Linked DNA regions of Homo sapiens. The protein of the gene in region 2 purifies or fractionates together with the protein of the main gene of each other region. This does not show direct contact. Each region holds a gene or a part of one and is shown on either strand. Other genes may lie near its edges. The genes, in order: OMA1 and CCDC142.

Region 1 (3,820 bases), on a different chromosome or scaffold from region 2:
ACAGAGGACAAGAGAAGACAAGAGCTGCACAGAGAAATAACTCTAGAGTTCTGCAGAGAATCCCCCTCCCATATTCAGCTGAGTCCTGTCTGGGCATATGTGTAAGAAAATTCCCTGGAGCTGGGAAAGGGCCACCTGAAAAGATTGCAGGGAATAATATACAGGGCTCACACAGGGCATGGTATACTGCCTATCCCCTCCCCACCATTCAAAGTGGAAAACCTTATCATTCGTGGGTAGAGTACTCAGAAGGGTTTTGCCTCAACATTAGAGAAAGATTAGTCTGAGACCGAAAGCTGCTCTGGCCCCACCTAACAAATATTAAAAGCAACCCCCAAAAAGATTAAATGCTTCCAAGCAACAACTGCATCCCAGGAAAAAAAAAAAATCTAAACAGGTATTAGGACACAAAACTATTTAACACTTAACAAGGTGCAATTTATAATTAAAAATCACCAAGCATGCAAGCAGCAAGATATGTGATCCACAATTAGAAGAAATATCAATCAGTGGAAACTAACTCCTAAATAAACAAATAACAGCATTAGTAGATAAGGATATTAGTTATTGTAACTATACTGCACATGTTTAAGAAGCTAAAGGAAAATATGAGCATGTTATGTAGAGATATGTAATATATTTCTTTAAAAGACCTAAACTTTTAGACAAGAAAACTGTAAGAACTAAGATGAAAAACATACTAGATGAGACTAACAGCAGATTAACATTGTAGAAATAAAGATTTGTGACTTTGAAGACGTATCAATAGAAACCATCTAAAATGAAATACAGAGAAAAAATACAATAATAAAAAAAGGCACAGGGCATCAATGAGGTATGCAATAACTTCAAGTGGCCTAATATTCATCTAACTGAAGTCCCCAAAAAGCGGGGAGGAGGTGTAGACAGAAAAAAAAAACACTTGAAATAATGGCCAAAAGTTTTCCAAACTTGATGAAAATTATAAAACCACAAATTCAAAAAGTTTAACAAATCCTACACAAAAGAAACACAAAGGAAAAAAACTACAAGGCACATAACTTCTTAAAATCAATGAAAGATAAAATCTTAAACTTGACATCTTAGGTGAACTGTATAAATTCATTGAAAAACACAAAAAAAGCTGGGCATGGTGGCTCACGCCTGTAATCCCAGCACTTTGGGAGGCCGAGGCAGGTGGATCATTTGAGGTCAGGCATTCGAGGCGTGAAACCCCGTCTCTACTAAAAATACAAAAATTAGGCAGGTGTGGTGGCACTTGCCTGTAATCCCAGCTACTCAGGAGGCTGAGGCAGGAGAATCGCTTGAACCCGGGAGGCGGAGGTTGCAGTGAGCCGAGATGACGCCACTGCATTCCAGCCTGGGCAACAGAGTGAGACTCTGTCTCAAAAAAAAAAAAAAAAAAAAAAAAAAAAAAAAAAAAAAAACAGGAAAAACACAAGAAAGTACATACTCTGATTACATCTCTATAATATAAACTGCAAAAAATGCAAACTAATCCATAGTGACAGAGAGATGAGTGACTGCTTGAGGAGTTGTAGGAAAAAAGCAGCAGGGGAAGGGATTACAAAGAGTGGTGCTTGCCTGTAAACCCAGCTACTTGGGAGGCTGAGGCAGGAGAATCACTTGAACCTGGGAGGCAAGAGACTGCAGTGAGCCAAAATTGTGCCACTACACTCCGGCGTGGGCAACAGAATGAGAACCTGTCAAAAAAAAAAAAAAAAAAAAAAAAAAACCAAAAACAAAAAACAAAAAAACCCAGATTGAGGGAATCTAAATATGAATTGAATTTCAAGTTGTTTTAGGTAATTATTATTTTCTTAGGTGATAATATTGTGGTTATCTGACTATTTTATTCCTGAGATACTTGCTGAAGGATCTGTTCATGATAAATAAAACTCACTTTCAAATTGTACAGCAAAGGTACACACACAAAGGACATAAAGTCAATAAACAAAATATCAGCAATCATTGTATCTCAGTGATAGTTACATATGTGTTCCTTAAATTTTTCTGCATGTTTCAAAATCTTCATATAAAAGTTGGGGAAAAAAATATGTAAACTTCAACCTAAGCTAATACGATATTATCTAGAAAGATGCTCCAGGACTACCAGTTTTAATAGTATTATCTATATATCAAACCATTTGAAAATTACTCAAATTTATTTTTTATGTAATTCATACATCCTGCCCTTGCACTGTTAATGTATAATGTTAATAAAGGGCATGCTAAGTAAAACATTAACTTTGAGTTAACCCTTTTTGAAATACAACCAATTTTAAATTAGTAAAGTCCAGGCTGATATATAATAGTTTGACATTATTAACAAGATACTTTGTTTTTACTTTTTTGAACCAAGCTGAAAAATTGTTAAATAATTTAAGCCTAGAAGTCATTTCACAATTCATACTGGAGTAGCTAGTAAGGTTTTCATTGGCTAGGGGCCATGAGAGTTATGCAGCACAGAATATAGTCCTGCTCTCATGGAGGTTATAATCTAGTTGGGGAGACAAAACTGAACCTAAGTAAGACTATTAGGGGATAATAAAATTCAGTTATTAAATACTACATACTGTATGCATTCTTAAAAAGACATCCATGAGTAGCTGAAGAGTTCAGGAAGGCAGCAATTATTTTTCATGCCATTTAGGCAGATGCAGAAAGACAAAAAAAAATGGAAAGAACTGTTTTAAATGGGAAAGTGTTTTAAGGTTTAAATGTAAAGTCTTCTTCTAGAAGTCAAACTGCAAAAACAACCCAAGCCCACTTTCTTTCCTTGACCTCAAATCTGATGATTTACTGTAGTAGATAAGCTTCAGACACTTGCCCAAGCACAAGTCCTTTTCCAAATGTGCATCTTACAGCCTCATTTTAGGGGACAGGCTTAGACGGCCACATTCATCCCTAGCAACCCCTACCATTAGCTACAGAGCTAGGAGTAGGTATTTGATACTGAAAAGATTTTACATAAAACAGTATTCCGCACAGGAATATAAGGGCATGTGTAAGTTGGGTCTACAGCGGGTGCTATGGCTAAACAAAGCAATATGAAAGCAAGAACTACAAACAAAAAGCTTTTTTAAAAAAAAAAAAGTGGATCCACAGAAAAGACAATGGACTATTAAGTGTAGACAGAAGATAAGTGAGAGACCACAAAGCCAGAGTGAATATGAGAGAATAAGACCTCCCTGATTCCCATGAAACCATTGTACTTCCTACACTTAATTGAGCTTCATGAGCTTTTACTTTATCCCCAAAATAATGCGCTTTCTTCAATGAGTTTCTGTATTCTGCAAATAAATGATCTCTAAGACGTTTACATGGTATAAAACAGTTATACATTTGTTTTTGTAAATTGACAGCATTTTAATATTATACATGTTGTTTACTGGAACTAGCTGAGGGTTCCTCCTACACTTTGCAAAGCCAAATTTACCAATTTTCAACATTTAATCAGTTCCAGAAATACTGGATTATCTCTACAGCAACTTTAGCATCCAAAATATCTCAGCCCACATTAAATCAGTCATGTCAATTCTACCTCCTTCTTATCTCATTCTAGCCTTTCCTGGGCTCTGTGGTCTTATGGTGTTGATCACTACCCACCTAATCTCCCTGCCTTATTTCACCACTAACCCCTCCCACTACAGTTTGACCCCAAACTAGAGCTAAAGCATTATTTCTAAAATGCAAACCCTGGCAACAGAATCCTACCCCGACAATTAACATACAGTCCTACCCTGGTAAATACCAGGTAATCATTTAAAAAATGACATGATGATCTGTAAATCTTTAAAAGATTTAAAAGATAGCAATC
Region 2 (3,820 bases):
CTGTGTCGCCCAGACTGGAGTGCAGTGGCGTGATCTCGGCTCACTGCAACCTCTGCCTCCCGGGTTCAAGTGATTCTCCTGCCTCAGGCTCCCAAGTAGGTGGGACTACAGGAGTGCACCACCACACCCAGCTAATTTTTGTATTTTTAGTAAAGACAAGGTTTTGCCATGTTGGTCAGGCTGGTCTCAAACTCCTGATCTCAGGTGATCGGCCTGCCTCTGCCTGCCAAAGTGCTGGGATTACAGATGTGAGCCACTAAGCCACTACACCCAGCCTACAATGATCTTTTGGTTATCACCTACAAAAGGAAGACAAGAACTGTATGTAAACCAGAAGCAATGACTATTTGAATGTTCTGAGACTCAGGAAGTTTTGGAATGTCCTTACATTGAAAGGCATTATTATATATTATTATTCTTCACAGCCCACTCCAGAGCAATATAACCCATAAAGCAAGAAAAGGCCTATATGCTGGGTTTGTTTCTTTGGTTTGATAGGTTGTTTTTGGAGGGAGAGAACACAGCAATAAAGCTGGTTTCTGCTCTACAGCCCATCTTGAGGGAGAGGAACCCCAGTAAATGTGGTTAATGGCAGCTGCTCTGTAAAGAAATGGTAGATGCCAGGGAGCCTGAAGACAGGATAGACCTGGGGGCGGCCAGACATGGAGTGGAGCCCATATGGCTCCTGGCACATCTGACAACCTGTCTAAATCCAAAATCTTCCTCTCTTCTCCAGTAAATGCAAGCCCCCTTCTCCTCCCTTATTTATGTCAAGGAAATTGCCCTTTTGTCAACGGACTTTTGTTAGGAGCCTCTGTACTCAACACTGAGGGAATACAAGGTGCAGAGTGTGTGACAGTCTCTCCCCCACCCACTGGGATCTTATAGTCCAAACAGGAAGAAAACTCACAATGCCTCTTTTTTTTTTTTTGAGACCAAGTTTCGCTCTTATTGCCCAGGCTGGAGTGCAGTTGCGCAATCTCAGATCACTGCAACCTCTGCCTCCTGGGTTCAACCGATTCTCATGCCTCAGCCTCTGAGCAGCTGGGATTACAGGCACCCGTCACCATGCCTGGCTAATTTTTGTATTTTTAGTAGAGATGGGGTTTTACCATGTTGGCCAGGCTGGTCACAAACTCCTGACCTCAAGTTATCCACCCATCTCGGCCTCCCGAAATGCTGGGATTACACCCTTCTGCTCTTAAAATGTCACCCCCTCACTTATGAGGTAAAGCGCAAATTGTTGGGGCTGGTGTTCATGCCCTCCACAATTTGATGCCAAATTGCTTACTACCCTACCCCACACCCAACCCCAGTGAACATACCCACAAAAGGAACCTCTGCTCTGGTAAGGCCACCTCTCTGCTACCCCCACAAGGATCTACAAACTGCCCACTTCCAGTAACCCCAGCCACTCCTCTGAGGCTTCCCAGCCACCATCTCCAGCCATAGGCCATGTATGGAGCGTTCTTTAACCACATGCCCACTATAGCCTTCCTTCCTCAGGGCTCTATGACCGTCACTGTGTGCAGTACTCATGATGAGCCTGCTCTGGGGCATGTTGAGTTTAAGTAGACAGCAGTAAACTGAGGTAGAAATGCCCAACAGGCAAATGCAGATGTTTAACTAGAACTCTGGGAGCCAGGCTGGGTGTGGAGGCTCATGCCTGTAATCCCAGAACTTTGGGAGGCCAAGGCGGTGGATTGCTTGAGCTCAAGAGTTCAAGAACAGGGCACATGTTCTCAGATCTCCTGAGGGCTATGTCACGAGCCAAACTTCTAATTAAAAAAAAAATATATATATATATAAATAGATATAATATAAATAAAATATATATAGATATAATATAAATAAAATATATATATATACTTTTTTTTTTTTGAGTCTCACTCTGTTGCCCAGGCTGGAATGCAATGGCACGCTCTCGACTCACTGGAACCTCCGCCTCCCGGATTCAAGTGATTCTCCTGCCTCAGCCTCCCGAGTAGCTGGGATTACAGGTGTACACCACAATGTCCAGCTAATTTTTGTATTTTTAGAAGAGACAGGGTTTCACCATGTTGGCCAGGCCGGTCTTGATCTCCTAACCTCAGATGATCCACCTGCCTCGGTTTCCCAAAGTGCTGGGATTACAGGTGTGAGCCACTGCACCTGGACAAAAAATTTTTTTGTTTTCTGTTTTTTTTTTGAGACAGAATTTTTGTTCTTGTTGCCCAGGCTGGAGTGCAATGGCGCTATCTCGGCTCACTGCAACTTCCGCCTCCTAGGTTCAAGCGATTCTCCTGCCTCAGCCTCAGAAGTAGCTAGGATTACAGGCACCTGCCACCATACCGGCTACTTTTTTGTATTTTTAGTAGAGACGGGGTTTCACCACGTTGGGCAGGCTGGTCTTGAACTCCTGACCTCAGGCGATCCACCCACCTTGGCCTCCCAAAAAAGTTTTTTAAAAAGATTTTTAAAAAGGGTTCAAGACCAGCCTGGGCAACATGGCAAAACCTTGTCTCTACAAAAAAAAAAATTTTTTTAAGTAGCTGGGCATTGGCCGGGTGTGGTGGCTCACACCTATAATCCCAGCACTTTGGGAGGCTGAGGTGGGTGGATCACCTGAGGTCAAGGGTTCCAGACCAGCCTGGCCAACATGGTGAAACCCATCTCTACTAAAAATACAAAAACTAGCTGGGCGTGGTGGCAGGCGCCTGTAATCCCAGCCACTCAGGAGGCTGAGGCAGGAGAATCACTTGAACCTGAGAGGTGGAGGTTGCAGTGAGTAGAGATCACGCCACTGCACTCCAGCCTGGGTGACAGAGTGAGACACCTTCTCAAAAAAAAAAAAAAAAAAAGTAGCTGGGCATTGTGGCTTCCACCTGTGGTTCCAGCTACTCAGGAGGCTGAGGTGGGAGGATTGCTTGAGCCCAGGAGGTGGAGGTTGCAGTGAGCCAAGATCACATAACTGCACTCCAGCCTGGGTGACAGTGAGACCCCATCTTAGAAAAAAAAAAAGAACTCTGGGAGCCAGAAAGACTGAACCCGGGAGTTCACAGCAGCAAGACACTGTGGGTAAGCAGGAATACTGAGAGAAAAGCAGAGAGTTAAGGACTGAACTCTACAGCCACACCCCTATTCGGGGCAAAGAGGAGAAAACTGAGCAGGAAAACAAAAAACCAGACATCTTCCACATAGGAATAGATAAATGTGCAAAATGGGGAAGAAAAAGTATAATGGCTTTATTCATAAACATATAAGAAAATGTTAGGAGAAACAGGCAAACATGGATGAAGGTTACTACTGTGAAATAGAAATCAGAGGTGAGTGAGGGCAAACAAAGTGCTGTTTTTTCATTAGTTTTATAAAATAATATTCTATTTCACTTTTTAAACTATAGACATGCACTATTTTATTTTTTGAGACAGGGTCTCTCACTGTATTGCCTAGGCTGGCTGGAATGCAGTGGCTATCACAGCTTACTGCAGCCTTGACCTCCTGGGCTCAAACGATCCTCTTGCCTCAGCCTCCCAAGTAGCTGGGAGTACAGGCGCATGCCACCATGCTCAGCTAAATTTTTTAATTTTTGGAGAGATGGGAGTCTGTGTTGCCTAGGGTGGTCTCGCTATGTTGCCCCTGGTGGTCTCGAACTCCTGGCCTCAAGCAATGCTCTTGCCTTGGCCTCCCAAAGCATTAATAAAAATACAAATTAAACTTTTAAGAGAGGAGAAATGTGCCGATAACTGGTAAGTAAAGAGAAAGATGCAATCATTTATCCTGAATTTTCTCTCTAAAATATACCTAAGAGTAACCAAATCATTAATGAAGGCAAGTTTTT

What was found.
Region 1: the proteins of CCDC142 (region 2) and OMA1 purify together in Homo sapiens (affinity purification with mass spectrometry; one large-scale study listed by BioGRID and IntAct). This does not show direct contact.

The regions. Positions count from the first base shown.
Region 1 is NC_000001.11:58,539,907-58,543,726, forward strand, and holds part of OMA1 (metalloendopeptidase OMA1, mitochondrial precursor), read right to left. Parts: intron 1-3,820. UniProt on the Homo sapiens protein: Metalloprotease that is part of the quality control system in the inner membrane of mitochondria. Activated in response to various mitochondrial stress, leading to the proteolytic cleavage of target proteins, such as OPA1, UQCC3 and DELE1.
Region 2 is NC_000002.12:74,476,205-74,480,024, forward strand, and holds part of CCDC142 (coiled-coil domain-containing protein 142), read right to left. Parts: intron 1-3,820.